Homo sapiens: one gene and its partners. The protein of the gene in region 2 interacts with the protein of the main gene of each other region in a pairwise test. Each region holds a gene or a part of one and is shown on either strand. Other genes may lie near its edges. The genes, in order: APOL2, PANX1, BUD31 and SLC38A7.

Region 1 (8,482 bases), on a different chromosome or scaffold from region 2:
CTCATTGCAAATCCCTGTCTCACACTCTGTGCTCAACTCTTCGTCTTGGTGAACTCACTGGTGCTGCAGTGGACAGCCTGTGTCCCCGTTGCTTCTCTAAGATTCTTTGTCCCACAAAGACCTGGATCCTGCTAGATGCCGGCCCAGCCCCTGCTGTGGCTGCCGAGCCCTCCTGATGCTTCCCCGTCCCCTCTGCTGTCCTCCCCTAGCTGATGGACCTTAGGGTGTTTCTAATTCTTCATATAAATTATGCTACAAAGAATATCCTCCCTCACGTAAAACTGCTCACATTTGAGATTATTTCCTTAAGATACTTTTAAGAGTAGAATGACTAGGTCAAAAGCTATTAACATCTCAAAAGTTTTTATACCTAGAGCCACTCTGTATGAAAACTGTACAAATTCACACTCAAACTAACAGGATATGAAGATGTCCATTCTTTCAGTCTTACTGGCTCTCAGTAGTCTTTTCTTCAGGAAAACAAAACAAAACAAAACATTATTCCTTGAGACAAGGTCTCACTCCTAGTATGCAGCCCAGGCTGCTGGCAAAATCCTGGCCTTAGGGGATCCTCCCACCCTGCCCTCTAAAGTGCTGGATTACAAACATGAGCCACGACACCCGGCCTGAATAAATGCTGATCTTTATATAGAGGAAAGTTCTTCACATTCTGCTCCTGATTATCTTACCCTGGGAGGTGAGGGAAAATAGCAAATGTTAATCATATTAATCATCTTTAGGCACTGTTTTAAGAAGACAGAAGAGCATTTATCAACCTCCCCTCCTGAGATCAAACTACAGCCATAGTCAAGGCACTTACAGGTATAATGGCACTTAATGTTAATGTGGGCAAACATTGGTGGATTTTGCACCACTAATTGCTCTAAGATGTTATAAATAGTAACTCACAGAACTCTTCCAAGAACCTAGGAAGTGTGTACCATTGGTATTTCCATTTTCAGGTAAGAAAACTGAAACAGATGTTCAGTGACTTGCCCAAGCTCAGAATCTACTACGTGGTAAAGACTGGGTTCCCACCCAGACAGACGGACTCAAGAACTCACGCACTGCCTCTGCACCCTCTGCTGCCAATGAAAATTTAAATGAGGGCAACAGGAGATCAGAGATGCCAAGAGATGTTGGAAAACAGAACTGGCTGAAGAAATGACAACTGAATAAAGAGGGGTGAAGGGAGCTGTGAACCACAGCAATGCCAAGAGGGCATCCAGCCAGGCAGAGTGGTCTACTAGGCAGAGCCTCAGAGAGGGGAGGAGTTCACCAGGCCCACGTGCCATATGGGATTCATGCCAGCCTTGAGTCTACACCAGTGAAAAAAATCAGAGAGTTCATGACTGAAGCAATATGCCCCAGAAATAATATCTTTGTATTCTGACACTTCAGTGGGTTCCCATTCAATCACCCTACAGGGAAGACTGCCAGTAGACCTGCCCCCCACCCCGTTCAATATGAATAGATCTAGGATCAGAAATTGGAGAAAGGTGAAAGTGGGGAAACAGACCAAGATGACCAAATACAAAAGGAGTCCAGAACAAACAAGTAATTTTTTAAATCTCAAACCCATGTCCTCAGGGAGATTAAAAAATATTTTATTCATAAACTTAAAACAAGATATATAGAAAAGAAGAAAAATCAATGAAACAAACAAAAAAAGAGATTTTCTAGAAACTAAAAGGTGATGATCAAATAAACAAGTCTAGAGAGACCATGTGAAAGAAAGTCACGGAAATCCTCCAGAAAATAAACCAAAAAGATGACAGAGGAAAAGGAGCTATATGGGGAATAGAAAAGTTACCAGGCACAGGGTCACAGGGTGTTCTAAGAAAGCTACTTGAGAATGAGCCACCGGGAGGAAGAAAGGGTGGGTGGGTGGGTGTGTGTGTGTGTGTGTGTGTGTGTGTGTGTATGTGTTGTGCATCCATGGAGGGCAGGTGGGGATAACCAAGAAAGAAAAAGACATGGGATCCAGAAAACAGGAAAATCAACCCAGAGAGAAGGGAATCTGAGGATCACAGTGGGACATGCAGTAGGCCTACAAAACGACCAGTCCAGGATGGAATAAAAAGGGAATGGTTCTGTGGGAAAAAGGGACTCAATAGAATACCTCAAAGGATTCACAGTTTGAGAGAAACTGAGGAAATGAAGAAGGCAAGCAGTACAAGGGAGGAAAAAAAACAAAGGCAATTAGAAACATCAGGAAAAAGTAAAGCTGTGCCACAAAACATGTGCAAACATGGTGTACAACTCAGCTCCACAGTAAATAGTATTTAAAACATCACAAAATGTAAACACTCTTGATTGATTTTTAACTTTGAGAACAGAACAGAGCATATAAATATGAGAACTAAATATACTTGTTACCGATTAGTACAAACTTAAAGCACAAAGGTAGCAGTTGGGATGTGAAGCACTGAACGAAGGAGAAGGAGGATTAATATTGTCATCTTTTAAAGAGGGGAGTCAAGAAATACTAGGTAAAACTGAGAGTATAAGAAAGAAAGTTGTAAGTAAATTGTTTACAGCTACAAAGTTGCTAATGGAGGACATAAAACTGGTGATACAATATTAGGAAAAGGTGGAGAGGAGAGATAGAGGGAGTGTACAAACAAGATGAAAATGACTAATAATGACACTATAAGTAATAATGATAATACCGATTCAGGCCCATCCCAGTTAGGGGCGGCTCCAAAATCACCATTGTTCTTTTCTCACCTTGTGTCTCTGCGCACTCCCCGGCACACCCACTTCCAGCAGCTGGTCTTTGTTTGCAGACTTTATTTTAACAGCTCAGTGGTTCCCGGGCATCCTCCAGCTCTTATACAAAAGCCCCCTCCTCAAAAGCCACTCGCCTCCCTCTTTCCACTTCCCACCTCTGTTTCAGGGTCGAGGCATCCAGATATCTGTCTTCTGGGGCCCCTACGCAGCAAGACTAAAAGGGGGACCCAGTCCTGGGCAGCAGTTCACCAGGGGAGTATGCAGAGGGGCATCTGGACACTTCTTGCTGTAAGGGACGGGGTGACGGGAGGGGGTCTTCCCTTCCCCTTCTTCCTGCTTTGTTCACTCTGTGACACCCTAGGCCAGGGGAGCTGTCTCAACGCCATCTCATGAGCCATGAGAACCAGGAGGACCAGGAGGGAGAAGAGGAGCAGGAGGGCAGACAGAGCTGGGGCCTCGGACCTGCCCAATACTTGTGAGGAGCTGCATCCAGGATCCCATCCTCCTGGGTCATTGTTGGCCTGGCTCCCACCTTTGTCTGGAGCCTCTGCTGGGGGTTGAGGCTGGATACTGCCCCTCAGGCTTGACTAGGACACAGTGTGTACTCCATGGGTGAGCCTGCAGGCTGGTCAATTCCGGTGTCCAACTGAGCGACCTGGAAGAGGAGCCCTCCCTCCCACCTCAGCTCTGAGCCAAGCTCTCCAGATGCAGAGGACAGGGACTCTCAGCAAAGCATCTCCCTCCAAGTGGTTGTGGGGCATCCTCCTTGGGCAGGGAAAGAGGAGTCGAAATGATTTCCTGAGAAATCGTCATTTTCATTTTATTTTTGAGAAACTGTCTTGCTCTGTCACCCAGTCTGGAGTGCTTTGGGGCTATCACAGCTTGCTGTAGCCTAGAGCCCCTGGGCTCAAGTGATCCTTCTGCCTCAGCCTTCCAGGTAGCTGGGACTACAGGCACACGGCACCATGCAGGACTAATTTGTTAATTTTTCATTTCAGAGAGACAGCATCTCCTGTGTTGCCCAAGCTGTCTTGAGCTCCTAGCATCATGTGATTCTCCCGCCTCTGCCTCCCACAGCACTGAATTACAGGCCTCAGCCGTGGCACTGCACCCTTCTGAGGAATCTTCAGTGAAAAGCCACGGTCAAGTTCAAACCCCATAGCAGGGCACACAGGCCCTCTGATGCTCTGGACCCCACCTTCCTCACCGCTCCCTGCCACCACAGTCACCTTAGGTCCAGGCACCCACTGACGCCCTGCTTCGGTGCCTCCTGGAGCCCATCTACTCCTCCCACTCCCATCCCCAGCCTCAGGCCTTCACTCAGCTGCTCCCTCGCCCTGGAATGTCCCCCCCACTGTCCCCACCATGTGCAAGTCACCTGTCCTCAGAGACCCACCCAAAGCTGCCTGGTCCATGCGGCGGCCCCCAACCCTCCCCAGGCTCCCTGAGCACTCTGCTTTCCAGAGGGAGCTCTACCTGTATGTGGCTCTTTGGGCCTCTGTCTCCCCTTTAGACTCTGAACATTCAATGGGGACACTGTTGTGTTCCCAGCTGCACCCCCTACGACTGACCTGGATGCCCTCCGCCCTCCCTGGCACAGCCTGGCTGAAATCCCAGGTGCAGGAGGCATTACTTGAACTAAAAGCAACCAGCCTCTGGATGACATGGCCCAGCTTCAGTTTCACTTTCAGTTGAGAAATTGAATTTAATTTTTCTTTCTATCTTGATGGGCATCTCTTTTTGGTGAAGAACAAATAAGACCATGACTCATATTTCACAGAAATTACCCCCCTGATTTCATGGACTTTTGGCAGCTCTATCAAGTTTTTTAGAGGGGAAAAATCTTAGGCTGGGAGGGGAGGTGACTTGCCCAGAGTCACACAGCTCTTGGAGGGCAGAGGGGAGGCCAACATCTGCCCTTGTGACTCTGATATTGAAGCAAAAATGGGTGATTTTAATAATCCAACAGTGTCCAGGTTTGATTCTGCTTCTACAAACACAGAGACCTAAGCTCTCACTCCTGTAGTTATACTCACAATTCCACAGTGTGGCTTTTGAATCTCATGATTGCAAAGCTGGCATCATGCCACAGGTACCATTCTGCAATGCGACCTTCTCACTCCCCTGTCTCAGCCATGTTTCCCATTAGGGACACAGCACAGCCTGTTTCTTCTCTATCAGCTCAGAGGTCTGAACAGAGGGACAGAGGTGAGGGCCAGAGACGTGAAGTCCTATGATCTGCCTGCTCAGCCTCCTGACACGGGACCCTGGCAAGTCATTCCCCTCCCAGGGCCTCAGTTTCCCCACAGGGCCTGGCACAAGTAGGTGCTCAGACTCAGGGTGAGTGAGACAACCTCTGAGTTCCTTGTGTCTCAAAAGAAATCTGTTGTTCCCATTGGGCTTCAGCAGCAGCACCCTGGGGCCAGCCTGGGTGTGGCCCGGCCACAAGGACATGCCGGGCTCCAGGTCACCTCCCCTCCTCCACCTTCTTTGATTCCTTCAAATTTCCCAAAGAGATGGGCACCCCCAACACCTACCTTTCTTCTGGGGTCAGCTGGCCGTGTCTGAGGGTGTCAGAACCAGAGCTGAGCCCGGGGAGCTTTGTGAACCCATCTAAGCTGTTTTCCCCACCTCTCTCTACAGTTTACCCGCCCAGCAGGAGGGAGGGAGCAATCAGACTCAAGCCTGGGTGCAAATCCCGGCTCTGCCACTGCTTTCCTGTCTGATCTGAACCAGCTACCTAACCTCTCTGAGCTTATCTACAAAAGCTGAATGATCCTTCCCTTATAGAGCTATTGCAAGAATAAGGACATGGGGGTAGATCACACTATCCCCAACTTACCAAGGGATCTTCCTCTGACAGAGACTGAGCAAGATCCAACTGTTCTGAGCTGTGTGGATCCCACGTCCAGCTGTGCATCTGTGTAATAACCAGACACGTCCTCCGGCCTCCCAGATATACCCTGGAATTCGAAAGGGAAAGTGAAAGTCACAACTTCCCAGCAGCTCATGACCAAGCACAGTAAACACGCTGCTCCCCAGCACCACCTGCAGTCCAGGCCCAGCCTCCTTGCTGCTGCACTTAGAGGAGCAGCCGCAGACCAGACATCCGGGTCCCTCTCATCCAACCCACCTGCCTCACATCCTCAGGATTCAAGGTCTGCTGTGTCAGCTGCCCATGTCTCAGGCAGTCAGAACCAGAGTTGAGCCTGGGGAGTTTTTTGAACCCATCTGAGCCGCTTGCCCCCCAACCCCCGCCCCGATCTCTGCAGTTTAAGGGCACAGCAGGTGGGGGAGAGAAGTCAGACTCAAGCCTCAGTGCAATTCCAGGCTCTGCCCCTGTTTTACTGTCTGATCTGAACTAGTTACCTAACCTTTCTGAGCTCAAGAAAGACCTGCCACTGACTGACCGTGGGGCTCTCCAGATTACTCCCCGTCCTTCCGTTCCCCCACATTCCTCAGATGCCTGCCTTACTCCCACACATGCCATCAGCATCAGCACAGTCCCCCACACATGCTGGGTGGATGCTTATTGCATATTTATTGTAATGCTTCTGAGGTTATGTTTTCTGTTATGTTTTTGATATAGAGTCTTGCTCTGTAGCCCAGGCTGGAGAGCAGTGGCACAATCATAGCTACTTCAAGTGGCACAATCAAGCCATCCTCCCATCTCAGCTTCCGAGTAGCTGGGATTACAGGTGCCTGCCACTACACCCAGCTAATTTTTTGTAATTTTAGTAGAGATGGGGTTTCACCATCTTGGCCAGGCTGGTCTTGAACTCCTGACCTCAAGTGATCCACCTGCCTTGGCCTCCCAAAGTGCTGGGATTACAGGTGTGAGCCACGGCGCCCAGCCCATTGTATCCTTCTTGTGACTTTGTGTCTTCATAGCTTAGCTCCTACTAATAAATGAGAACATACAATATTTGGTTTTCCATTCCTGAGTTACTTCACTCAGAATAATGGTGTCCAACTTCATCCAGATTGTTACGGATGCCATTATTCCCTTCCTTTTTACAGCTGAGTAATATTCCATGGCATATACATATATAGGGGTGTGTGTGTGTGTGTGTGTGTGTGTATATACACACACATTTTCTTCATCCACTTGTTGGCTGATGAGCATTTAGGTTGGTTCCATATTTTTTCGGTTGCAAATTATGCAGCTATAAACATGCATGTGCGAGTATCTTTTTTATATAATAACTTTTCTCCTCTGGGTAGATACCCGGTAGTGGGATTACTGGATCAAATGGTATTCTACTTTTAGTTTTTTAAGGAGTTGCCATACTGTTTTCCATAGTGGTTGTACTAGTTTACATTCCCACCACCAGTGTAAAAGTTTTCCCTTGTCACCATATTCACACCATTTTAGCTAGGCTGGTCTTGAACTCCTGACCTCAAGTGATCCACCTGCTTTGGCCTCCCAAAGTGCTGGGATTACAGGTGTGAGCCACTGCACCCTTCTATTCTTCTTTGATTTTTAAATTATGGCCATTCTTGCAGGAGTAAGGTGGCAACTTATTGCAGTTTTAATTTGCATTTCTCTGATAATTAGTGACGTTGAGCACATTTTCATATTTTTTTGGCCATTTCATTTTGTATATCTTCTTTTGAGAATTGTCTATTCATGTCCTTTGCCCACTTTTTGATGGGATTATTTTTTTTTTCTTGCTGATTTGTTTGAGTTCCTTGTAGAAACTGGATATTAGTCCTTTGTCAAATGCACAGTTTGCAAATATTTTCTCCCACTTTGAGGGTTGTCTGTTTTCTCTGCTGATTATTTATTTTGCTGTGCAGAAGCTTTTTACTTTAATTAGGTCCCATCTCTTTATTTTTGTTTTCGTTGCATTTATTTTTGGGTTCTTGGTCCTGAATTCTTTGCCTAAGCCAATGTCTGGAGGAGTTTTTCCGATGTTATCTTCTAGAATTTTTATGGTTTCAGGTTTTAGATTTAAGTCTTTGATCCATCTTGAGTTGATTTTTGTATGAGGATACTGTTTCATTCTTCTACATGTGGCTTGCCAATTATCCTGGCACCATTTGTTGAATAGGGTGTCCTTTCCGCACTATACGTTTTTCTTTGCTTTGTCAAAGACTAGTTAGCTGAAAGTATTTGGCTTTATTTCTGGGTTCTCTATTCTGTTCCCTTGATCTATGTGCCTATTTTTATACCGGTACCATTCTGCCATTATGTACCTTTTTTTTTTTTTTTTTTTTTTTTTTTTGAGATGGAGTCTCTCTCTGTCACCCAAGCTGGAGTGCAGTGGTGCGATCTTGGCTCGCTGCAAGCTCCACCTCCTGGGTTCATGCTATTCTCCTGCCTCAGCCTCCCGAGTAGCTGGGACTACAGGCGCCCACCACCACACCTGGCTAATTTTTTTTTTTTTTTTTTTTTGTATTTTAGTAGAGATGGGGTTTCACTGTGTTAGCCAGGATGGTCTCGATCTCCTGACCTCGTGATCTGCCTGCCTTAGCCTCCCAAGGTGCTGGGATTACAGATGTGAGCCACTGCACCCAGCCCTTGTACCTTTTAAGTGAACCATTTAGCCCATTTTCATTCAATGTTAGTATTGAGATATAAAGTGCTGTTCTATTCATCAGGCAAGTTGTTGCCTAAATACCTTATTTTTTTCATTGTGTTATTGTTTTATAGGCCCTAAGGCTTATAAAACAATATGCTGTAAGGAGGTTCTATTTTGGTGTATTTCGAGGTTTTGTTTCAAGACTTAGAACTCCGTTTAGCATT
Region 2 (7,988 bases):
GCTTCAAGAGATGCTGAGCATCCCAGGCCTAATGTGGAGTTGACACAGCTTATGAACAAAGCTGTTTCCATCTGCAGATGCACCCTCAAAGCCCTGCAGCTTTTCCATATTTCTTATTTGAAATTAAAGACTGTAATTTTGTGTTATTTTGGATTCTTATTTCCTGTTTTACTACATTTTTATAGAATCACTGAAAGTTGCCTTTTTATTTTGGTGGGAAAAAAATAAAAAGAGGTTTTAGTGTGGAGAAAACCAAGAGATGTGGCATTAAATGATGTTATTATAGTGGTGATCAAGGTACAAGGCTATTTTAGGGAAATTTACACCCTATATGTAATTTGTTTTTCTAATTACAATGAGCTGTGCTGAACTATTCATTGTACCACTTATTGTACCAAATTATTGTACCACTTGGGCATGTTTAAAAATACCACAGACTGTAAATAGTCACTTTTTAATTCAAGGGAACAGTTCGAAGTGAAATGCCATTATTCAAATAGCTTTGAAACAAAAGTGACTTATACAGATGTTTCACAAGCCCATGTTAGAAAAAGTTTTCTCCCTGTGGTTCCCAGATAGAATGCCTGGCTTTCGTGGTTATGGAAGCAGCAGAAACTCTGTGTCATGCACTTATGTTTTTAAACTAATGGGCACCCTTCTGATTGGGCAAGAATTAAATGAACATTCCTTCTCCCCACAGCCAGCTATGAATTATGCAGCCAAAATTCAGCTAATCACAGCCTGCTTTGTGTGTCATTGTGTAGCAGCCCTTTGCAAATTGGGTTAATACTTTTGAAACACCTCATCCCGTGCCAGAATGCCAAAGTAAAGCAGCTGTCTTGGTAAGAGGGCTTTGCAAAGTTTTGGGGTCATTTGTGCTTATTTCTGTCTTGCGTCTGGGGCAGAGATTCCTTATGTGGGTCTGTGATAGTGACAGGAGGCCTGCAAACTAGGATAGGAAAATATATGACAGCTTTATTTTTTATTCACTTCCAAATAAAATTTAGCATTAAGAAAGTTTTTATGTAGGCAACAATCCATAGTGATATTAGCAGTACCTGTGAGTTTGTCACCCACAGAAAATCACAGATATCCTGGAATATCGTTTACTCTTCACTACTTCAAAGTTTCAATAGCTGTTAGATCATCTGCTAGATCCTAATTTAAGTATGAATAAAGAATTGGATGCAAAATATTAATATTTTGGTAACTGTATATCAGTGCTCTATTTCCTTTGTGAACCTATATATATATTATTTTATGCATTTAAAAACAAGGAAAGATTGAAGAACTGTCACAAAACCAAGGAGTCTAGGGAGACATGGCAACTAAATGCAGTGAGTACCCTGGATTGGATCTTGGAACAGGAAGAGGACAGTAGGGGAAAAACTACTACTGTACTTTACAAATAAAAGTCTGAAGTTTAGTTTCTGATAATGTGCCGATGTTGGCTTCTTAGTCTTAACAAATATATCACAGAAATATGAGTCATTAGCAATGGGGGAAACTGAGTGAGGGGCTTATGGGAATGCTCTGTACATCTGAAATTACAGTGAGGGCCATGTTGTGGGGGCTGCCGTCCACTCCCAGAAATGTTTTGAGGGGAGGGTTTCATGTCAACTTACGGCCATCATGGCCTCGTCCATTACAACTCTGAGAAATGGTGGAGATAGACCCATCCAAAAGTAAGGAGAAGTTTTCCAGAGGAGTAAAGTAATTGAGAGTGTGTTAGATTGGAAAAAGATGTCTCTGGGGTCAGAGAGGTTGGCAACATAGTCTGACTCTCACTTACCAGCTTTGTGATCTGGGGCCAGAAACTGCTCCCGGCTTTCTCTTCCCATTTGCAGAATGGAGCCATCTATAGAGTCCCTGCCAGGGTTGCTGTGAGGACTGAACATAACGTGTCCACCTAGCTAATCTTTTTGTGGTTACCTGGAGTGTTTGAGTGCCTGTTCTATGCCAGGCCCTTTGCTAAGCATTTTCCATCAATTATCTCCTTTAATCTTCATGACACCTCTATTCCATGACCATTTCATACATAAGGAAACTGAGGGTCAGAGACTTTGAAAACTAACCAGATGGATGGGCTAAATGCTGGGGACAGCGGGAGCCATTGCAGGTACCTGAGCAGGGTGAACTTGGCGGTTCCAAGAGTTAAGCCTCAGTAATGGTGTACAGGAGAGAATAGAGGCAGGGAGAGCCACTTGGTAAGCACAGAGTGAGGGTTCTAATTAGGGAACAGAAAGGAAAAGAAGCAGTTTTGTCCAAGAAGGCAAAGAGCAAACAAAAAGCAATACTCTTATGTCTTATTGCTGATTAGAAGATCACGCAAAAGGATAGTCGAAAGTGACATCAAGGGCCTAGACCAGGGTCAGCAAACTTCTGCAGAGGGCCAGATCATAAAGTTTTTTTGTCATTGCAGATCACATGGTCACTGTCGCAGCTACTTAGTTCTGCAGAGTAGACATGATTGCCCAAGGCCGCAATGCTGAGCTTCAATTCAGATCTGCACTGACTGCAATTTACGGTCTTCCTAAGTCTTCTGCTGAGGCTAAGCCACCTCTGACCAACTGGTGGTCCTGGTTACTGGGGTGCTCCTCACCCTCTCTGACGTGTGAATCCCCTCTTGTTTGGTGTGTGTCTGCACCCTGATGTGGATGCTCTCCTCTTGATTCCCTTGCCCGTTGTGGATGGCCTCTCTGAGCCCAAGTTTATCCAACTATACGATGAGGGTGTTGGACTGCCTTCAAAGTCTGTTCCACATTCATTCTGCATTCTGTGAATTCAACTGCTTATTTCAGCTGTCTTATTGGGATGATTACTGAATCACTGAAGTCGAAGCTTTTCTAATTTGTTTTGGGGGAAGTTACATGTTTCTTTGGCATTTTCCCAGATTCCAGAGTAGGGCAAAAATGGAGCCGTATGCCTTAGTTGCTTCTTAAAACCATAAAAGTTAACAAAAACCCAGCAGAAGCCTTCGTGATAGCTGCAGGTTTCTTAACTGGGATTTTGTTCAGGGAACGGGAGTAATTTTATTTTTTTATTTTCCTTCTGTGATTAGAACGTACACACCATGTGTCACCATGCAGTTGCTGATTACTTCAAATTAATACCTATGGAAGAAAAAAAAATAGGTAGTTACCTGTGACAGGTATTACCTGGACAGGGGAATTTAGCCATAAGAAGTAGTTATTAGGTAATGAGCCCAATTTCCACAATACACATTTGTCTCAAGATGTGAGAAAATGAGAGCATCACTTGGCGCCATAGGTTACTGCATGGGGGGTTTGTTAAGCCCATGATTTGTTCTCTTGTTTTTCAGTTTTTCCCCTACATCCTGCTGCTCTTTGCGATCCTCCTGTACCTGCCCCCGCTGTTCTGGCGTTTCGCAGCTGCTCCTCATATTTGCTCAGACTTGAAGTTTATCATGGAAGAACTTGACAAAGTTTACAACCGTGCAATTAAGGCTGCAAAGAGTGCGCGTGACCTTGACATGAGAGATGGAGCCTGCTCAGTTCCAGGTGTTACCGAGAACTTAGGGCAAAGGTAACTTAGCCCCAGCAGGCAGCTCATCGGGTTTTGTAGGACAAATTCTCTGCCCTTCTACTGCCAGTCTGGGCCCAGAGTTCTCATTGCTAGGAGGCGGGGCAGGAGTGGAAGCAGGGGGACGTCATGCACCTAGTGACAGCCTGTAGTATCCCGGGATGTCCACTCTCCCCAAATCTCACCGCGACCCATCCTACCCATTTGTTTATCCTTCTGTCAAGACTCATTCCCTTGATGAGTGAAACATTACATCTCATTTTAAAAATGCAGTTCTTGTAGGGGTAACAGATTGAGGTGCTATATGAAGCTTGCTTGCTTTGATCTATTTAACTCCTTAATGGAGACGCACAGAGGATTTCAAGGCAGCTGAGCAAGGGATGAGAGAGAAATGGGGAATGAGTAGGTCGTGGCTTGCCTTTTCACAACCTTCTTTTGGTTCTTGTTATTGAATAATTGGAATAATAATAAGAGCCATCATTTTTTGAATATTTAATATATCTCACACACCGTATTGAGTTATTTAAGTACATTATCTCCTTTAACCCTCAGAGCAACATTACTAGTGCATTTGTTAACCTCCTCCTCCACTTTTATTCTGGATAAAAATACTCTTCTGTAGCTGTAAGTGAGAGTCTGGGAACTGAACCATGCCCTTTAGACCCCATAGTTTTTGCCCATACCCCCTGAGTTGTCCCACCCCTTGCCTGTAAGAGGCGTATGCTTACACATATTTAGGATTTACCAGATGCCAGGCATCACTCTAAAAATTTCCAAATATTAACTCATTTAATTAACTAGGCCTTCTGTTAAATATTAAGGGGAAAAGCATTTTATTATTCCTTTTCTTCCTCCTCTTTTAAACGGATTTTATTTTTGACTACTGACGTTGTAGGTAAAGAAGTATGGGTGTTTGAAATTTTTAGTGTGACATTGTTGAATGTGTATCTGCCTTTAATATTTGATGGTCTTGATGAGTGCCTAAGTTATTTTTGTTTCCTTTATTTTTTAGTTTGTGGGAGGTATCTGAAAGCCACTTCAAGTACCCAATTGTGGAGCAGTACTTGAAGACAAAGAAAAATTCTAATAATTTAATCATCAAGTACATTAGCTGCCGCCTGCTGACACTCATCATTATACTGTTAGCGTGTATCTACCTGGGCTATTACTTCAGCCTCTCCTCACTCTCAGACGAGTTTGTGTGCAGCATCAAATCAGGGATCCTGAGAAACGACAGCACCGTGCCCGATCAGTTTCAGTGCAAACTCATTGCCGTGGGCATCTTCCAGTTGCTCAGTGTCATTAACCTTGTGGTTTATGTCCTGCTGGCTCCCGTGGTTGTCTACACGCTGTTTGTTCCATTCCGACAGAAGACAGATGTTCTCAAAGTGTACGAAATCCTCCCCACTTTTGATGTTCTGCATTTCAAATCTGAAGGGTACAACGATTTGAGCCTCTACAATCTCTTCTTGGAGGAAAATATAAGTGAGGTCAAGTCATACAAGTGTCTTAAGGTACTGGAGAATATTAAGAGCAGTGGTCAGGGGATCGACCCAATGCTACTCCTGACAAACCTTGGCATGATCAAGATGGATGTTGTTGATGGCAAAACTCCCATGTCTGCAGAGATGAGAGAGGAGCAGGGGAACCAGACGGCAGAGCTCCAAGGTAGGGTTTGCTTTTGGCAGAGGCTACGGGAGTCTACCGAGAGCCTTTGCAGCAGCCTTGTGGGAATATTGACAGTCTTTACCCTGCCCATCATTTAAACCATTTCCAAGCATTAAAAACCTTAATACCAAGGTGCGGGGTAGGGGGAGTGGGAACCCCTCAGTATAAGGAGAGAGAGGAAAAGAATTGGTGCTGCTCTACATTTCCAAAGAAGAATAACTTCTGTGCTTTTTCTGGTTTTTCCCTCTTCTCTGTCTGTCTCACACTCTCTCTTGCTCAGCAATCTTCCTTGTCTTTCTTGCTTATTTTTGTCTTATCTTACTGGCTTTCCTTTCTACCTCTGATCTCCTTCTCTGTTACTCTCTGACTTTCTCTTTCAAAGGGGACTAAAAGTTTATTGATTCTTTTAGTTAGGCCAAGAAGCAAAACATGGTATAGACTGTGAGAGGAATTTTTGGCAGAAGAAAAATTGATTAGTATTGGTAATTCCTGCTATGTTTCTGTCATAAATATTTGTTTTCAATTTTGACAGGTATGAACATAGACAGTGAAACTAAAGCAAATAATGGAGAGAAGAATGCCCGACAGAGACTTCTGGATTCTTCTTGCTGATGATTTTTTTCCTTGAGCTGTAAATCTGTGACTTCTGCGACATGGGATTTAATTTGGCTAAAGCACCCCTGTTGGTTTCACAGCTGGTTTGCAATAAATGGTTCTTGGTGGAGATACTGAGCATGTCTTATTGAGTCCCTAATGGAAATGGTGATCAACAAAAGGTTATGGAAGAATGGTTTATGAACTTCCCATAGGAAGCACCTGAGAGATAGTAAACTGCAGCAAGTAACTATGTGTAAGTCCTCATCAAATGAAAAGCAGAAAGACAAGAACAATTAGTCAAGAGCAGTAGCCCTGTCAGAGCCTCGGAGCAATACCTTTCTGTACCCGTGGTGAGACAAGACCCAGAGCTACTGGAAAACAAGCACTTTGGAAGATTTGTTTTGTTTTCATGGAATAATAATATGTCAGGGTATAATTTAACGTGAGTTTCTTATGTGCCCTTAAAGACTGTTAGACAAGAAAAGCATTCACTGGCTAATAATCCATAGGTCGACCTATGTCCTAAGTTAGGTGTAAGGTCCGATGCCTTGGCCCACACTCGAGCTCTCTTTACATTGTTAGTTGTCAACCTTGGCTGATGGAAATCCCGTAACCACTATTTGTTGCACTGTGCCTTGAAGGGCAGCAGGCCCAAGTGCTGCTCTGACTGAAAACTGAGTTAACAAGATGAAATCTAAAGGATATTCACAGTGACTTCAATTCAGGAAGAATGCTTCCAAAAGAGCCCAGTGGGGAAATCTGACATCACAGAAGACATTAATTCAGTCACTTTCAAAGAGTTTGTCTACAGGCGGTTTCTCTGTTATCAAAGGCATTTGAAATAGGATTTTACTTAAACAATAATGGAACACAGGAGTATTTAAAGTGAAGAACACTTTGCCTGAATGTGATCAGGGCACATAAGTGACATTGGCATGCTTCATATGGCGTGCTTGGAGCCAGAAAAACTTAGCGGTTTATTTTGTTTATATTTAAGCACAGCTTTAAAAAATTCATTATCGTTTATTCAGTGTCCGAATTGAGGCCATTTGGGAAGAAAATTCTAGCACTGGTGGAGAATTATAGAATAAAGATTATAAATGGTTGGATAAGACAAATGTAAGCTTATTTCATAAACATTTAAAGCTGATTCAGAACATGTTAAAAACTGTTCCCAATTCCAACTATGTAAATAGATCCTATGTTCACATTTTACACACACACACAAAAATCTTTAACATCTGTGGAACTTCCCAGTTTTAGTCTTAGAAAGTTAGCATGTTGCATAAGTTCAGTAATCCTCAGGAACCTCCAAGTTTACTTTTAGCTCTTACGGACAGTTGTTTACATAATCTAATTACTGTTTTCTGAAGAACGGAAATTATATAAGCTGCTGTCTGCCTTTTGGAATATTCAGAAAAGCAGATTTTATTTGTACTTCTGTGATGTTTTCTGAAATGGAAAGCTGATGATAAATATCAAAGTAGCAATCAGTGCGTTAAATTATTCTGTTACATGATATTTATTACTGTTGAATTATTCTGTGACTTAGAAATGGCAGTAACCTAAATAATGGAATTTGCAAAATTATTATATTGCCGTATCTGAGATGTTCCATCACAAGTTTCTACACTGGTTTCTTTTGAAAATTTAAAAAGATTTACGAGATACATTTTCTAGGATATGATTTTTTTTTTACAAAAAGCTTCATCTTCTGTAGACTATCCTTAATTTCTATTTTGAAACGGTAAAAATTGATATTTTAGGACACCAGGAAGTCTCCAAGCCATTCCCACTCTCTGAACTCCAGTAGGGTCTGTGATGTCCCAGGCACCAGTACCAAGTTGGATGTGCAGATATGCATAGGCAGGTCCCATCCTTGAGGACTTCAGAGTCCAGTAAAAGGCAGCAGAAACATGGGCTGGTGCCTAAGAGGAGAAAGCGTAGCCACAGTAAAGGCTATGCCAGAAAACTCCTAGCAAATGCTCTGTGTTCTTGGGAGAGGGCACATTGTTTTTGTTTTCTCTCCTATAGTTCCTGTAACTGCTGGTTTTGAGAATATAGTAATCATTTTTCCCAGAGGCAGATGACCACCTTAAGGTTCTTTAGCTGCAAATCCTCTAGGTTGAAGTTTGTGTGAAATAGTCACAGTGATTTTGAATAGTAAGGAATCCAGTTGC
Region 3 (7,139 bases), on a different chromosome or scaffold from region 2:
TTGGAGGAGGAACAAAAAAAAAAAGTACTTAGGCCAGGCAAGGTGCCTCACACCTGTAATCCCAGCACTTTTGGAAGCCAACGCCAGAGGATCATTTGAGTTAAGAAACCAGCCTGGGCCAAGGGCCCATCTCCACAAAAAATTTAAAAATTAGCTGGGTGTGGTGGTGCACACCTGTAGTCACAGCTACTCAGGAGGTTGAGGTGAGAGGATCCCTTGAGCCCAGAAGGTTGAGGCTGCAGTGAGCCATCATTGCACCACTGCACTCCAGCCTGTGGAACAGAGCAAGACCCTGTTTCAAAAAAAAAAAAAAAAAAAAAGCCAAGAGCGGTGGACCACGCCTATAATTCCAGCACTTTGGGAGACCGAGTCGGGTGAATCACCTGAGGTCAGGAGTTCAAGATCAGCCTGACCAATATGGTGAAACCCCATCTTTACTAAAAATACAAAAATTGGCCAGGTGTGGTGGCAGGTGCCTGTAATCCCAGCTACTTGGGAGCTGAGACAGGAGAATCGCTTGAACCCAGGAAGTGGAGCTTGCAGTGAGCCAAGATTGCGCCACTGCACTCCAGCCTGGGTGACAGAGTGAGACTCCATCTCAAAACAAACAAACAAAAAACAAACACACACACAAAACTCAGCCAACGTTGGCTCCCCCTAATTTTCGTGGTAAGAAAAACCATGACTTGCACAGGTTGCGAGAATAAGGATTGTGGTTAGTTCAGTAACTCCAAAAGTGACGCGAGCTTCAAAGTCCAAGAGAGACTGACTAATTACCTCTGCTGATGGCTTTCCGCTTGTAAAAGAGGTCGAAGATGTAGCGGGTTTTCTGGTGGTGGATCCTGAAGATGGGCCACAGAGATTCCACTTTCCTCTTTCCCTCATGCGGTTCTGTTTCAGCTGGGGAGAAACAAAGAGTGTGTTTGGGGGAATAGGGTCGGTCTGCGCAGGATTTTCTTTTTGTAAGTAACTACTGATAATGAATAAATACCACTTTATACCCACTAGGATGGCTGTGGGTGGCAAGCCACCCAGGTGCCGAGGCAAGAAACCGAGGGCACGAGCTGTTCTAGTATAATAAAATAAATAAAATAAGAATAGTTATACTAGATATAGATCTTAGATATGATTATATATGAATATCATTAATCCTTAGTTTGTAGCAATTACTCTTTATTCCAATATTATAATAATCCTCACTCGACAATCATAACCTAGGAAACACCAGGCTATACAGAGATGGGAGCTGAGGGGACATAGTGAGAACTGACCAGAAAACGAGTGCAAGCCTTCTGTTATGCCCGGACAGGGCCACCAGAGGGCTCCTTGGTCTAGCGGTAACGCCAGCATCTGGGAAGATGCCCGTTGCCAAGCGGACCTTGGTCTAGCAGTAGCGTTAGTGTCAAGGAAAAACACCCGCTACTTAGCAGACCGGGAAAGGGAATCTCCCTTTCCCCGGGGGAGTTTAGAGAAGACTCTACTCCTCCACCTCTTGTGGAGGGCCTGACATCAGTCAGGCCCGCCCGCAGTTATCCAGAGGCCTAACTATCTCCCTGTGATGCTGTGCTTTGGTGGTCACGCTCCTAGTCCGCCTTCATGTTCCATCCTGTACACCTGGCTCTGCCTTTTAGATAACAATAGCAAATTAGTGAAAGTACTAAAAGTCTCTGATAAGCAGAAATAATGGCATAAGCTGTCTCTCTCTCTCTGCCTTGGTGCCAGGCAGGCAAGGGCCCGCTTTCCAGTGGACACGTGACCCATGTGGCCTTACCTATCATTGGAGATGGTTCACACTGCTTATCCTGCCCCTTTGTCTTGTATCCAATAAATATCAGTGCAGCCTGGCATTTGGGGCCACTACCGGTCTCCGCGTCTTGGTGGGATTCCCAGGCTCAGCTGTCTTTTATCTCTTTGTCTTGTGTCTTTATTTCTACGCTCTCTCGTCTCCACACACGGGGAGAAACCCACCGACCCTGTGGGGCTGGACCCTACAGATGACTATAATCAAAATTATGGCACAATAACAAGTGTTGGGAAGGATGTGGAGAAATTGGAACTCTCCTACGTTCCTGGTGGGAATGTAAAATGGTGGAGCCACTGCAGAAGAGTTAGGTGGCTCCTCAAGAAGTTAAACAGGGCTGGCCGGAATCGGTGGCTCACACCTGTAATCCCAGCACTTTGGGAGGCTGAGGTGGGCAGGTCACTTGAGGTCAGGAGTCTGAGACCAGCTTGGTCAACATGGTGAAACCCCATCTCTACTAAAAATACAAAAGAATTAGCAGGGCATGGTGGCGCATGCCTGTAATCCCACCTACTTGGGAGGCTGAGGTGGGAGAATCGTTTGAACCCAGAGGCGGAGGATGCAGTGAGCTGAGATCACACCACTGCACTCCAGCCTAGGCAACAAAGCAAGACTCCCGTCTCAAAAAAAGAAAAAAAAGGGAATGAAGTAAGTACTGATATATTCTACAACACAGATGAACCTTGAAACATCAAACTAACTGTGGCAATGGTCGTACAACTTTGTGAATATACTAAAAACCCCTTAATTGGATAATTTAACAGGTTCACTTTTACAGTATATGATTAATATCTCAATAAAGCTGTTATTTAAAAACAGAATAAGCCGCCGGGCATTTTGGGAGGCCAAGGTGGGCGGACCACGAGGTCAGGAGATCGAGATCAGCCTGACCAACGTGGTGAAACCCCATCACTACTAAAAATTAAAAAATTAGCCGGGCGTGGTAGTGCACGCTTGTAATCCCAGCTTCTCAAGAGGCTGAGGCAGGAGAATTGCCTGAACTCGGGAGGTACAGGTTGCAGTGAGCCAAGATCGCACCACTGCACTCCAGCGTGGGCAACAGTGTGAGATTCCGTCTCAAAAAAAAAAATAAAAAAATAAAAAATAAGCTAAGTAATTTAAACATAATTGTTTTAAATTAAAAATGTCTATTTTTGGATCCTTTTGTAATTCATGAGTGTGCTTGGGTGTTCACATCCATGTGTGAGACATGCCACTCTCAAACCTTGTCACAACGTTGGCACATTACCCATGTGACAAGAAAAAAAGTCTTTTTAATTACAGAATTAGAAAACATAGATTTTTAAAGACATTTAATGGTAACTTCTGTTAAAAGGTTGGTCCCGGCTGGGCACAGTGGCTCACGCCTGTAATCCCAGCACTTTTGGAGGCCGAGGTGGGTGGATCACTTGAGGTCAGGAGTTCGAGAACACCCTGGCCAACAGGGCAAAACACTGTCTCTACTGAAAATACAAAAATTATCTGGGCATGGTGGCACATGCCTGTAATCCCAGTTACTCGGGAGGCTGAGGCACGAGAAGTGCTTGAACCTGGGAAGCAGAGGTTGCAGTTAGCTGACATTGTGCCACTGCACTCCAGCCTGGATGACAGATGACCCTGTCTCAAAAAAAAACAAAACAAAACAAACAAAAAAAAGCCAAAAAACCAACCTTGGTCCCTATGCTTTCAGATCTATTTCTACAGCGTAATAATTAATCAAGATAATTCTAGGCCCACAGATGGGCATCCTAATCATCTTGAAGGCACTTCTAATTTCATCTCCCAGCCAAAGTCCTTTAGGGCTGAGGAAAAGCTAAATAAACTAGACCAGTCTACAGGTTCTGAGGGAAGTAGCCACAGCAGAAGCTGCTCCTTCAACACACGCAGGATCAGGTGGCACTCATACTTGCCGCAAGGCAGTTCTCTCTCTCTCAGCAGTCACAAGTTCATCTTTGTCTATGACCTCCTCAGTTTTTAGGGAAGAACAGAAGGGCGAAGAGTGGTCAAGAAGACTATCCCTCCCTGTCTCCAGCTTTTAAGCCATTCTATTACCTAGGAATTACAATTCAGCTCAACAAACAGAATGCTGTGATCCAAGCAGAAAAGCAGGTAGTAAAGATTCAGCAGGTACACATGTTAAGACGTGACTTGCTCCTCCTTGGCCTCTGCCATGATGGTGAGGCCTCTCCAACCACATGGAACGGTAAGTCCATTAGATCTCGTTCTTTCGTAAATTGCCCAGTCTCAGGTATGTCTATCAGTAGCGTGAAAATGGACTAACACACCCCCATCTCTACAAAAAATTAGCCAAGCGTTGGTCGGGCGCGGTGGCTCATGCTTGTAATCCTAGCACTTTGGGAGCCTGAGGCGGGTGGATCACAAGGTCAGGCGATCGAGACCATCCTGGCTAACATGGTGAAACCCCGTCTCTACTAAAAATACAAAAAAAAAAAAAAAATTAGCTGGGCATGGTGGCGGGCGCCTGTAGTCCCAGCTACTCCAGAGGCTGAGGCAGGAGAATGGTGTGGACCTGGGAGGCGGAGCTTGCAGTGAGCGGAGATCGCGCCACTGCACTCCAGCCTGGGTGACAGAGCGAGACTCCGTCTCAAAAAAAAAAAAAAGAAAAAAAAGAAAAGAAAACTTAGCCAAGCGTGGCAGTGGATGCCTGTAGTCCCAGCTGCCTGGGAGACTGAGGTGGGAGGAACACCTGAGCCTGGGAGGTGGAGGCTTCAGTGAGCTGTGATTGAACCACTGCACTCCAGCCTGGGCAACAAAGTGAGACCTTGTCTCAAAACAAAAACAAAAAGAAAACAGAACAAAGAATACTTCTGTCTGGAGGTAAAGAATATCTAAACACAAAGTAGGGTTCCTCCTTCCCTCAAAAGTCACCCTTTAGAAGATGAAGTTAATTTACTTTCAAGGACTTGCAAAATCTCTTCTATTCCAGCATGCTCCCATTTCCTTTATTTTGATAAAGAGCTGTTTCGGGAAGACATCTCTCAGCCCAAAATGACCGTGATTACTGCAATAGGCCCATCCAAATCTAAACTGCAAAACAAGTACTGAGTATTTAATAGAAGTTATCTGGTACGAACAGTTTTTTTAAAAAGGGGCAAAGTAATTTAACATTGATTTAATTTAGTAATTACTGCTGGAGGTACGACCTCATAATAACCATGATTAGGTTAGTTACAAGCAAGCATTTCAAAAGCTACTTTAAAAAGTAACTTCAGCTGGGTGTAGTGGCTCATACCTGTAATCCCATCACTTTGGGAGGCCGAGGTGGGTGGATCACTTGAGGCCAGGAGTTCGAGACCAGCCTGGCCAACATGGAGAAACCCATCTCTACTAAAAATACAAAAATTAGCCGGGCATGGTGGCGCATGCCTGTAATCCAAATTACTCGAGAGGCTGAGAGGCAGGAAAATCACTTGAACACGGGAGGCAGAGGTTGCAGTGAGCCGAGATCACGCCACTGCACTGCAGCCTGGAAGACAGAGCAAGACTCCAACTCAAAAAATAAAAATAAAAAAGTCAATTGGTAAGTGGCCACACTGTGATCATATAAGGCCAACAGATGCTTGTGGCTTCAGATAAAATTTCCAAAGACAGCATAGGACACGGGTTCACAAAGCAGGATCACACGCCATTTACAAGGAAGTGACAGAAAACAGATGCGGCAAAGACTAATCGATGATACTGAAAAGGAATAGCACTTCCAAGTAAATATATTTTGTATGATTTTAAATATATATCTAACCAAAATAGTAAATAACTATAGGTAGACTATTTGATCTATATTTCATAACCTTTTATATTCGAGTTGGCAAAAACAAAAACAAAAAAAAACACCTTTTCTGAGGACCTTTTCATTAATGTTATCTTATTTTCGGGCACTTACAGTATTTCCCCAAGTTCATAAGCAAACACAACATGTCAGTGTTAGTAGACCACTCTCTTTTTATATTTGCATTTATGCCTGTCCCCTGGGGGCATCTAAGCCTGTGACCCTTGGACCCAGCCCACCCAGACAGGAACTCCCCTACTCACCTTCTCTCATCTTTTGATCTAATTCATCCAGTGTTGGCTCAATCAACTCCCAGCCATCTGGGGGTGCTTTCCGGCTTCTTTTGACTTTAGGCATTTTCCTTCCACAGGATAATCTGCAAAGATCTGGGGGAAAAAAATGAATTGGTTTCTGAGTCTCAAATCCCCAAAGGCCTTTGCCAGCCATTATTTCGGTACAGGCTGACTTCCTTGAGTCAGCATAGGGTCACAGCTATGGGACAGGGCTCAGCACCCAGACTGTGTTCAAATCCTGGCTCTGCTACTTACCCGCTGTGATCTTCAGAAAGGTACTTAACCTTCCTAAGCCTCTGTTTCCTCATCTGTAAAATGGGGATAATGGAAGCTACCTTATGTGGTCATTGCAAAGACTTCATTAGAATTGTATCTATCATGCCTGGTGTATAATGTGTGCCTAAGAGACATTTGCTGTTGTCATTAGCTAACTTCAACTAAAAGCTTAACCCTATACTGGATGTTGGGAACACAGAACAAAAGTTAAGCCTTTGCCCCTTAGAAGGTGACATTTTAGCAAAGAGACAGACAAGAGAAAAAGCAATTACAATAGAGTATAAGGAGGGCTGTGACTCGGGGAGCCATGGGGGTGAGTATTTAAAAAGGCAAAGATGGAAGGTCAGGCACGGTGGCTCATGCCTGTAATTCTGGTCTTGGCCAGCACCTTGGGAGGCTGAGATGGGAGGATCACTTGAGCCCAGGAATTTGAGACCAGTCTGAGCAATGAGGTGAAACCCTATCTCTACCAAAAAAAAAAAAAAATCAAAAAAATTAACTGAGCATGGTGGTGGGTGCCTGTGGTCTGAGCTACACGGAAGGCTGAGGCAAGAGGATCACTTGAGCCCAGGAGGTTGAAAGTCTTCAGTTAGCCATGTTCACACTACTGCACTCCAGCCTAAGTGACGGAGTGAGACCATGTCTCAATAACAAACAAAACAAAACAAAACATAAAATAAAAAGGGAAAGATGACTGTAAAATCAAAGTACCTTAGGATGTGCTTTCCAAGAGTATAGACAGCAGAAAGATCTCTCGTCTCTGCAGTTGCAGGCTTGGATTCTTGTTCAGCTCTAAAAAATTATTCTGTGACTTTCAGGTCACCTTCCCTCTCTGGTCCTGTTTCTTCTGTAAAATGAGGGCAGTGGATTGGCTGATTGCCAAGGTCTCTTTCACACCAAACAACATATTACATAAAGTCAGGTAGTTCCCATACAAGAGGCCGATCCCAATCTAAATAGCAAAGCGTTTTTCAAACCACAC
Region 4 (7,988 bases), on a different chromosome or scaffold from region 2:
TTCCTCCCAGGGAATGCCAGGAGGCTGCCTTCACCGCCCAGATACCACCTGTTCCTTCTTTGACAAGGGCACTTAGAACTGAACTACTCATGGATGCAAAAGGACATTTAGAACTGAATCTCTCATGGATGCATCCTTTTTCTATGATGGAGACAGAAAAGGATGGTCTTATCTGAAACCCTGCAAGCCCCGGTCTGCCCTGCCTTGCCTACTCTTGCTCCCCAAGGTGAGGTGGCATGGAGGAGCAGGGTTCCCCAGGAGCCCTTGGGTCTACAGCTGCCCAGGATCATAGCTTCTGTCTGACCCAGGCTGGGGCCTCCAAACCTGGCATATTTCTGGAAACCAATCTCCCTGGGGATGGAGAGGGGCAGGATGAAGAGGAAGGCAGTGAGGCTGATGGTGAACTTGCGGTCTGTGTACCAAGGGCCGCTGGCCCCCTCCGGCTCTTTCGCCATCACAGCTATAACTGCACAGGGAGGAAGGAGGGAATGTCAAGCCAGGCCACCATGGGGTGTGGCCCTCCTGCTCTGCTGGGCCCCAGGACCTCCCTCTGCCTGGAGGGAGGATTCCCAGATGAATGCTGGGCCCAGGTAAGTCCTGGAGAGGTGTTCAGTGCCTTTTCCCTCCACCCCAGGATCCCTGGGGCTGATAAGAAGAGATGGGGTAGGGACTGAGGGAGAAGCTCACTCTTGTCCTGCTGGTCGCCAATGATGATTAGGAAGGCAATGCAGGTGCCAAAGGTGTAGACAGCGATGGCCACCTCACATAGCACACCTGTCAGCTTGCCACACACAGCCCATACCACCTCCTGGTAGGTCCTCTCATTGCTGGCCTGGGAGCAGTAGGCCAGGATGACAAGGCCACTGATGATGAAAACCAGCATACCCTGCAGGCAGAGGCAGAACAAGAGCTTGTGGCAAAGGCCTGGCAGCAGAGGGCACCCTGGGCTCGCCTAGCATTTACTGGGCCAGTGCCCAAAGCAAGCTTGGCAAATCTCACAAAGGCAATTTTAAGAGACTGCTAGAGGATGCCGAGTTGAGATTTTCTTTAAAAACAAAAAGTTTTTTGAAAAATTGCCAACATACAAAAGTAAAGAGAATAGGCTGGATGCGATGGCTCATGCCTGTAATCCCAGCACTTTGGGAGGCTGAGGCAGGAGGATCACTTGAAGTCAGGAGTTTGAGACCAGCCTGGCCAACATGGTAAAACCCCGTCTCTACTAAAAATACAAAAATTAGCTGGGCATGGTGGTGGGTGCCTGTAATGCCAGCGACTTGGGAGGCTGAGGCAGGAGAATCACTTGAAACTGGGAGGCAGAGGCTGCAGTAAGCCGAGATCGGGCCACTGCACTCCAGCCTGGGTGACAAAGCAAGACTCCATCTCAAAGAAAAAAGTAAAGAGAATAGTAAAAAGAACTGGCATGTATCCATCACTCAGCTTCAAAAATGATCAATGCATGGCCAACTTGTTTCATCATTCCCCTTCCCTCCCACTCTGCATTTATTGTGAAGCCAATATAAGCTATCATATCATTTCATCAATAAATATTTCAGTATGTAGTTCTAAAAGATAAGGGCCCTCTTTTTAAACATACCACAAAATCAATGTTACACCTAAAAAATTAGAGATGTAATTGATGTTCAAATTTCTCTGATTGTTGGAAGGCTTCTGAAGCCTCATTTGGGTCACAGGAAAGAATACTAGAATAGATTAGTCATGTCTGCCATGTGTGAGGGAGGGGAGAGCAGTGCGTGTATCACTTACTGGCCATCCCTGACCCGAAGCCTCCCTTTTGAGGCAAAGCGCCCAACTGAACTGCACCTCTGCCCTCCCGGCCAGTGCACTCACCATCTGCAGTGCGATGCCTGCTGCCACGCCCCCCGCAGTGCTGAAGGCTGCTGGGAAGTTGAGTAACCCTGCACCCAGGCACGCGTTGACGACGATGAAGATGGCCCCAAGTGTGGAAGTGGTGCCTCTGTCCAGACCCCCAGGAGAGGCTTCCCACTCACTCTTGGGGGCTGTGTCCACACAGGGACTCTGCAGCAGCCGAGCCCGCTCCCCGGCATCCGTGCTCAAGTCCCACTCGCTGTAGTCATTGTTGATGCTGACCTGGGCCATGGCCCCGAGAGCCTTCTTCCTGCAAGGTCTGTGGGTTCTGCCTTACAACCACATGCCTCAGGGAGCTGAGCAACACCCACCTGTTTGGGGCTGTTAGCTTAGGACTCTTCTCAACCTAGATGGGACAAAGGCAGGCACTACTGTTATCCTAAGATGGGGGAACTAGGGGACAAAAAGGTGTAATAACTTTCCCAAGATCACATGGGTAGGGTCCAAACCCAGGTATGCCTCTGTGCAGACAGTGCACTGGGTGCCAGAGTATGGGGAGACAGACACAGAAACAGATCAGGTGCAAATCATGCTTGCTTCAGGCATACAGACTCAATGGACCAGTTAGATGTCAACATAAAATGGGTACTAACACATCAGCACTCGATAGAGGCCCCGCATCGGGCAGGTGTGTCATGGATATACTTTATCTCATTCAATCCTTAGGATGGTCTTGTGGTCAAAAGGTTCGGAGAGATCCCATCACTGACCCAGGGTCATATATTAGCAAGTTGCATAGCAGGATTTGGATCCAGATCTGTCTGGCTTCCCAGCCTGTTTCCACCCCACAGGGTCCCAAAAGGACCCCTTACCAAGAACTGAGATTCAACATATTACAGTCCAGCACGCCTCCCGGTGGCCTGGAGTCTGAATTCTGTGGCTTTCGAGGCCCTTCGAAATTCAGGCCAATTCTCGACTCTTCTCTCATGTGACAAGCCCCCATGCCTGTCATGTTTGCGTCTTCAGGAAAACAGTGATTCATCCCATGCTTCTAATGCTCCCAACTCCTTTGCCGCCACCCTTTTAGGTCCTATTTCTTCCCCATTTCCTGGGTCACTCACTGAGCTCTTCTTGGAGCCATGTAGGGGCCCAGAACCACTCTAGCTGGTTTCTTCTCAGTACTCTCTCATGTGCTAGCATCTCACTGGCCACTAGGCTTGCTTTCCTGGGCTAGATTACAATGATCAGTGCCAAACATGCAGTGCTGTTTGTCACTATAAACCACTATTGCTGCAGCTATGGAATGCTTTCTCATTCAATCCTCAATGCAGCCCTAAAAGGTAGACATGACAGTCACCATTTTACCAAAGAGGAAGCTGAATCCCAGAGGGGATAACCACTCTCCCCTCAGTCATATGGCGGTCAGTGGTGGAGCTGGGATTCAAACCCAGGCCTGTCTGACCATAGGGCATCCATCTGTTTGTATCTGCCCCACTCCTGGGTCCAAGATGGTACCTTGGGTATGGCAGAACTCAGATAACAGGCTTATCACCTGACTGATTCTCTTTGCTCTCTGGATAAACACAATTGAGATGCAGTTTTTTTTCTTCCAAGAATCTCGAGAGGCTCTGAGGAGCCCAGCCCTGAAAAAGGATCTTCAGTGTTCTCAAGGTTCAGCTCATAGCCTGAGACCCGCAGAGAAATGATGGTCCTAAAGCATCAAGTCCACCCCCAGATCAAGAGCAGCCCTGGGCAGGGCTGTGATCTGGGTCTCCGAGTAGGTTCTGCCGTCAGAATGCTGACTCCTCCGCTGCCTATCTGTGTGACCCTGGGCAAGTCACTTCGCCCCTTTAGGCCTTTACATCATATGTTCCTGTGGGTCGTGTGTTAATATCAGTAAGGGTTTAAGACTCAATAAATGGTCACTGCTGCTGTTATTTCTGCAGATGCCCCTTCCCATGTTGCCCACCACCACCATGCCTGAGACTCTCCAGCCCTAAGCAAGCAGGGAGCAGAACACTGATCAAAACCAGAGCCTGGGCCGGGTGTGGTGGCTCACATCTGTAATTCCAGCACTTTGAGAGGTCGAGGTGGGCAGATCACCTGGGGTCAGGAGTTTGAGACCAGCCTGGCCAACATGGTGAAACCCCATCTCTACTAAAAATACAAAAATTAGCCAGGTGTGGTGGTGCACCCCTGTAATCCCAGCTGTGCAGGAGGCTGAGGCAGGAGAATCGCCCGAAATTAGGAGACAGAGTTTGCAGTGAGCCCAGATCACGCCACTGCACTCCAGTCTGGGCGACAGAGTGAGACTCTATCTCAAAACAAACAAACAAACAAAACTCAAACCACAGCCTGGTGCTATTGGCCAGGTAACAATGGGCACAGAGGCCCTGGGATAGCTAATGGGAGAAAGAGCAGGAAGAAGGCCAGATTTCAAGGGCAGGAACTAAGGGGGCAGGGAGGAGCCAGGGCAGTCTTCCCCAGAGGCTGCTATTAGCTGGTTACCACCCAGGCTGGCGAAATCTGCCAAAGACTCCTTCTCCTAGAGTCTCCTCATTCCTGAGTCCCGATTTCACGGTACTCATACAAAACTCCATTTTAATCTCTACTCCCTCCCTGGTTTAGTCTTTATTTATTTAGAGACAGGGTATCACTCTGTTGCCCAGGCTGGAGTGCAGTGGCGCAATCAGAGCTCACTGCAGCCTCAATCTACCAGGCTCAAGCAATCCTCCCACCTCAACTTCCCGAGTACCTGGGACTACAGGTGTGTGCCACCACAGCCAGCTAACTTTTAAAATTTTTTTTTTTTTTGAGACGGAGTCTTGCTTTGTCACCCAGGCTGGAGTGCAATGGCACAATCTCAGCTCACTGCAACCTCTGCCTCCCGGGTTCAAGAGACTTTCCTGCCTCAGCCTCCTGAGTAGCTGGGATTACAGGTGCCCGCCACCATGCCTGGCTAATTTTTGTATTTTTAGTAGAGATGGGGTTTTGCCATGTTGGCCAGGCTGGTCTTGAACTCCTGACCTTGTGATCCCCCTTGGCCTCCCAAAGTGCTAGGATTACAGGCGTGAGCCACCACGCCTGGCCAACTTTTTAAATTTTTTGTTCCTGTGGGGAACAAAATTGGCCTTTCAAAATTCAGGCCAATTCTCAACTCTTCTCCCATGTGACTTCTCCCACGTGACAAGCCCCCCACGCCTGTCATGTTTAAATTTTCTGTAGAGATGAGGAGGTCTCACTATGTTGCCCAGGCTGGTCTTGAACTCCTGGGCTCAAGCAATCCTGCTGCCTCGGCCTCCCAAAGTGCTGGGATTACAGGCGTGAGCCACAGCCCCCAGCCTGGTTTAGTCTTTATAGCCCAGAGGGAAAAAAAGGGAACTGAGCATATTCAGCCATAATGACTGCCCTAACCATTGGGCCACCCTCTCTGATGCCTTCAGCCCACTGGGGGTTTAAAATGACTAACAAGACCCCTTGGACTACTTCCCATTGCTCCTCCTGATGATGGACAAACAAAGCTGGGGACCATCCACTCATGAGAGGGAAAGGGTGAAAGTTCATGTGCTCTCAGCCATCTGTTATCAAGCATGGAACCAAGGGACATGGCACCAGAGGAAACATTCCTCTGCTGGCTCGAAACCCAGAAAGATCTGTCAGATGTCACAGGGCTTACACATCCTCTTACACATCCTGTCACCCAACCAGCAACTCAGCAAAATCAAAGCAGTGAGCAGCGAAGGCAGAGTCTTGGGACTCCCAGGCTTCCAGTGTAGCTAGAGAAAGAACCCTGCAAAGTGACCACTGCCAGAGCTGTGACCATCTCCTCCCCGCTGCTCACGTCACAGAGACAGAGGTCTACAGAGTGATTCGTCCAAGGTCACAAGGCTTGGTGCGGCTTCCTGACTCTCCAACCAAAATGTTTCCCTTGGGCACCCCTGCCCGAGTCCTGCACCATCCTCCAGCCTCTCCTGCCACCCACATGAGAGTGCAGGCTGGGGTCCTCGTGGAACTCAGAAGCTGGGGGTCCCACCTCTTGCAGATTCTCTGCCTTGGTTAAGACCTCTCGGCACCCCCACTGCTCACTGGCAAATTACTCAGCTCATTGTTGCACCTTACCTGCTCTTTCTCCCTGATGGGCTGTGCCAGAGGCGGTTGCTCCTTCTCCCCAAAGGTCTGGGATCTGATTCTCCTCACTTCCCTTTCTGGACCCAATTTCTTCTTTCTCAAGACTTTGCCTAAAATTTGCTGTCAGCAGAGGGAAGAGTTTGGGCTACTTCTGTGCTGGCTTCAGCAGAGCTGGAGGAAACTGAGCGGCTCTCACGCTTACTCATGAAATGGAGCTTCAGGACAGATAGGAAAACAGGCCCAGGAGGGAGAGGTTAGACTAAGGTCACAGTGGGTAGCTGGCAGAGCCAGAATAGAAGCCTGATGCCCACATGCTCAGGCCAGCGATGTAGGCCCCTCAGATCCCAACTGGAGTGTGCTCCCAGTCCAGCCTGGGGTTGGAGCCCTGAGATAGAAAGGGTGGGCTGCTTTGTGAGGTGAGGCTTTGTGAGGTGAGCCAGGGCGCACCCGGGCCAGGAGGCCGGGGCGGGGCGATTCCCAGGCCTGGAGCGAGAAGGGTGGGCTACTGTGGGGTAACCTGGGGAGGAGCTCCGGGACCCGATCCCGGCCTAGGACTGGGTGGAGACCCTCTGGCTGGGTAAAGGCGCGGCAGAGCTGGCGCAACAGAGGGACGGGCGTGGGGCGAGGACGCCAGGATCTGGACCCCTGCAGGGAAAGGGTCTGAGCTTTTCCGCGGTGGCGGGGACTGAGGGGCTCCACAGACCTCGGGGATCTAACACTTCCACCCTCCAGAGCCTGTCTCCGGCCACCTACCTTGGGGGATTCTTTCCCGAGCCGGCTGCGGAGACACGTGAGCATGCATCACATGACGCCCGCTCGGGCGGCCGCGGGACACGCTGGGAGTTGTAGTTTCCGCAAATGTGAAGCTTGGACAACACCAGCTCCCTGAATCCTCAGCCCGACAGCACTGCCCTGAGCCAGCCTCGCGTCCAGCCAGCTCGTGTTTATCCTCTTACTTTTAGTCTTGGCCTCTTGACCAAATCAAACACTGCTCCTTCCTCCAAGGAAGAGCATTAGGAGGTCTGGCCTCTTTGCCAGTCCCGGTGGCGGTGGGCCAAAGCTGTTTGGCCTCATTATCCTCCCGGTCTCTGTCCTTGCCTTCACGCCCATGGCCAGAGCACTGGAGTTTTTTTTTAATCAGTAATGTGGGGGACCTGGAGCCACGGTCTTTCCTGCAAGGGAGTGGGCTGGGGGCATGGTTACGACCCCATCGGTTTAGACTCTAGAACAGTTTTTGAGGGATTGTAGGTGCTCAGTAAATATTTGTTGAATGACGAAATGGGCATCCAGTCCTGGTTCTGTTCTTGGCTGTGTGTCACTCATAAATTGTCACGTAATCTCCAGCATCCCAATAGCCTCATCTCTGTTTTGTGGATATGCTCTCCACTGCACTTACCTCTCCATGCATCAGAGGTCCTCACCGATGAGGACACACTGGGAATCCTTAGAAACCCAAATCACACCTTTTTTTTTTTTTTTTTTTTTTTTTTTTTTGAGACAGAGTCTCACTCTGTCTCCCCGGCTGGGGTGCAGTGGCACGATCTTTGCTCACTGCAACCTCTGCCTCCCGGGTTCATGTGATTCTCCTGCCTCAGCCTCCCGAGTACCTGGGATTACAGGCATGCACCACCACTCCCAGCTAATTTTTGTATTTTTAGTAGAGATGGGGTTTCGCCATGTTGGCCAGGTTGGTCTCAAACTCCTGACCTCAAGTGATCCACCCACCTCAGCCTCCCAAAGTGCTGGGATTACAGGCATGAGCCACCGTGCCTGGCCTCCAAAAAGTTTATATAAATTGAATCATACTGGTTGAGTGCGGTGGCTCACACCTGTAATCCCAGCACTTTGGGAGGCCAAGGCGGGCTGATCACTTGAGGTCAGGAGTTCGAGACCAGCCTGGCCAACATGGCGAAGTCCTGTCTCTATTAAAAATACAAAAATTAGCTGGGCATGGTGGTGCACGCCAGTAGTCCCAGCTACTCGGGAGCCTGAGGCAGGAGAATCACTTGAACCCGGGGGGCGGAGGTGGCGGT

What was found.
Region 1: the proteins of PANX1 (region 2) and APOL2 interact in binary tests that used the Homo sapiens proteins (3 or more experiments, as listed by UniProt).
Region 3: the proteins of PANX1 (region 2) and BUD31 interact in a two-hybrid assay, tested with the Homo sapiens proteins (one large-scale study listed by BioGRID and IntAct).
Region 4: the proteins of PANX1 (region 2) and SLC38A7 interact in binary tests that used the Homo sapiens proteins (3 or more experiments, as listed by UniProt).

What each region holds. Positions count from the first base shown.
Region 1 is NC_000022.11:36,233,866-36,242,347, forward strand, and holds the start of APOL2 (apolipoprotein L2), read right to left. Parts: upstream 5,663-8,482; 5' UTR 5,576-5,662; exon of another isoform or gene 5,271-5,575; intron 2,984-5,270; exon of another isoform or gene 2,731-2,983; intron 471-2,730; exon of another isoform or gene 371-470; intron 1-370.
Region 2 is NC_000011.10:94,175,047-94,183,034, forward strand, and holds the end of PANX1 (pannexin-1), read left to right. Parts: intron 1-700; exon of another isoform or gene 701-842; intron 843-3,322; coding exon 3,323-3,546; intron 3,547-4,555; coding exon 4,556-5,211; intron 5,212-5,743; coding exon 5,744-5,823; 3' UTR 5,824-6,922; downstream 6,923-7,988. UniProt on the Homo sapiens protein: Ion channel involved in a variety of physiological functions such as blood pressure regulation, apoptotic cell clearance and oogenesis.
Region 3 is NC_000007.14:99,409,899-99,417,037, reverse strand, and holds part of BUD31 (protein BUD31 homolog), read right to left. Parts: intron 7,005-7,139; 5' UTR 6,869-7,004; intron 5,975-6,868; 5' UTR 5,946-5,974; coding exon 5,852-5,945; intron 5,094-5,851; exon of another isoform or gene 5,055-5,093; intron 4,850-5,054; exon of another isoform or gene 4,743-4,849; intron 3,061-4,742; exon of another isoform or gene 2,960-3,060; intron 901-2,959; coding exon 778-900; intron 300-777; exon of another isoform or gene 1-299. UniProt on the Homo sapiens protein: Involved in the pre-mRNA splicing process. May play a role as regulator of AR transcriptional activity; may increase AR transcriptional activity.
Region 4 is NC_000016.10:58,678,009-58,685,996, forward strand, and holds the start of SLC38A7 (sodium-coupled neutral amino acid transporter 7), read right to left. Parts: upstream 6,763-7,988; 5' UTR 6,709-6,762; intron 6,324-6,708; exon of another isoform or gene 6,171-6,323; 5' UTR 5,947-6,170; intron 2,234-5,946; 5' UTR 2,119-2,233; coding exon 1,849-2,118; intron 887-1,848; coding exon 688-886; intron 467-687; coding exon 325-466; intron 1-324. UniProt on the Homo sapiens protein: Symporter that selectively cotransports sodium ions and amino acids, such as L-glutamine and L-asparagine from the lysosome into the cytoplasm and may participates in mTORC1 activation. The transport activity requires an acidic lysosomal lumen.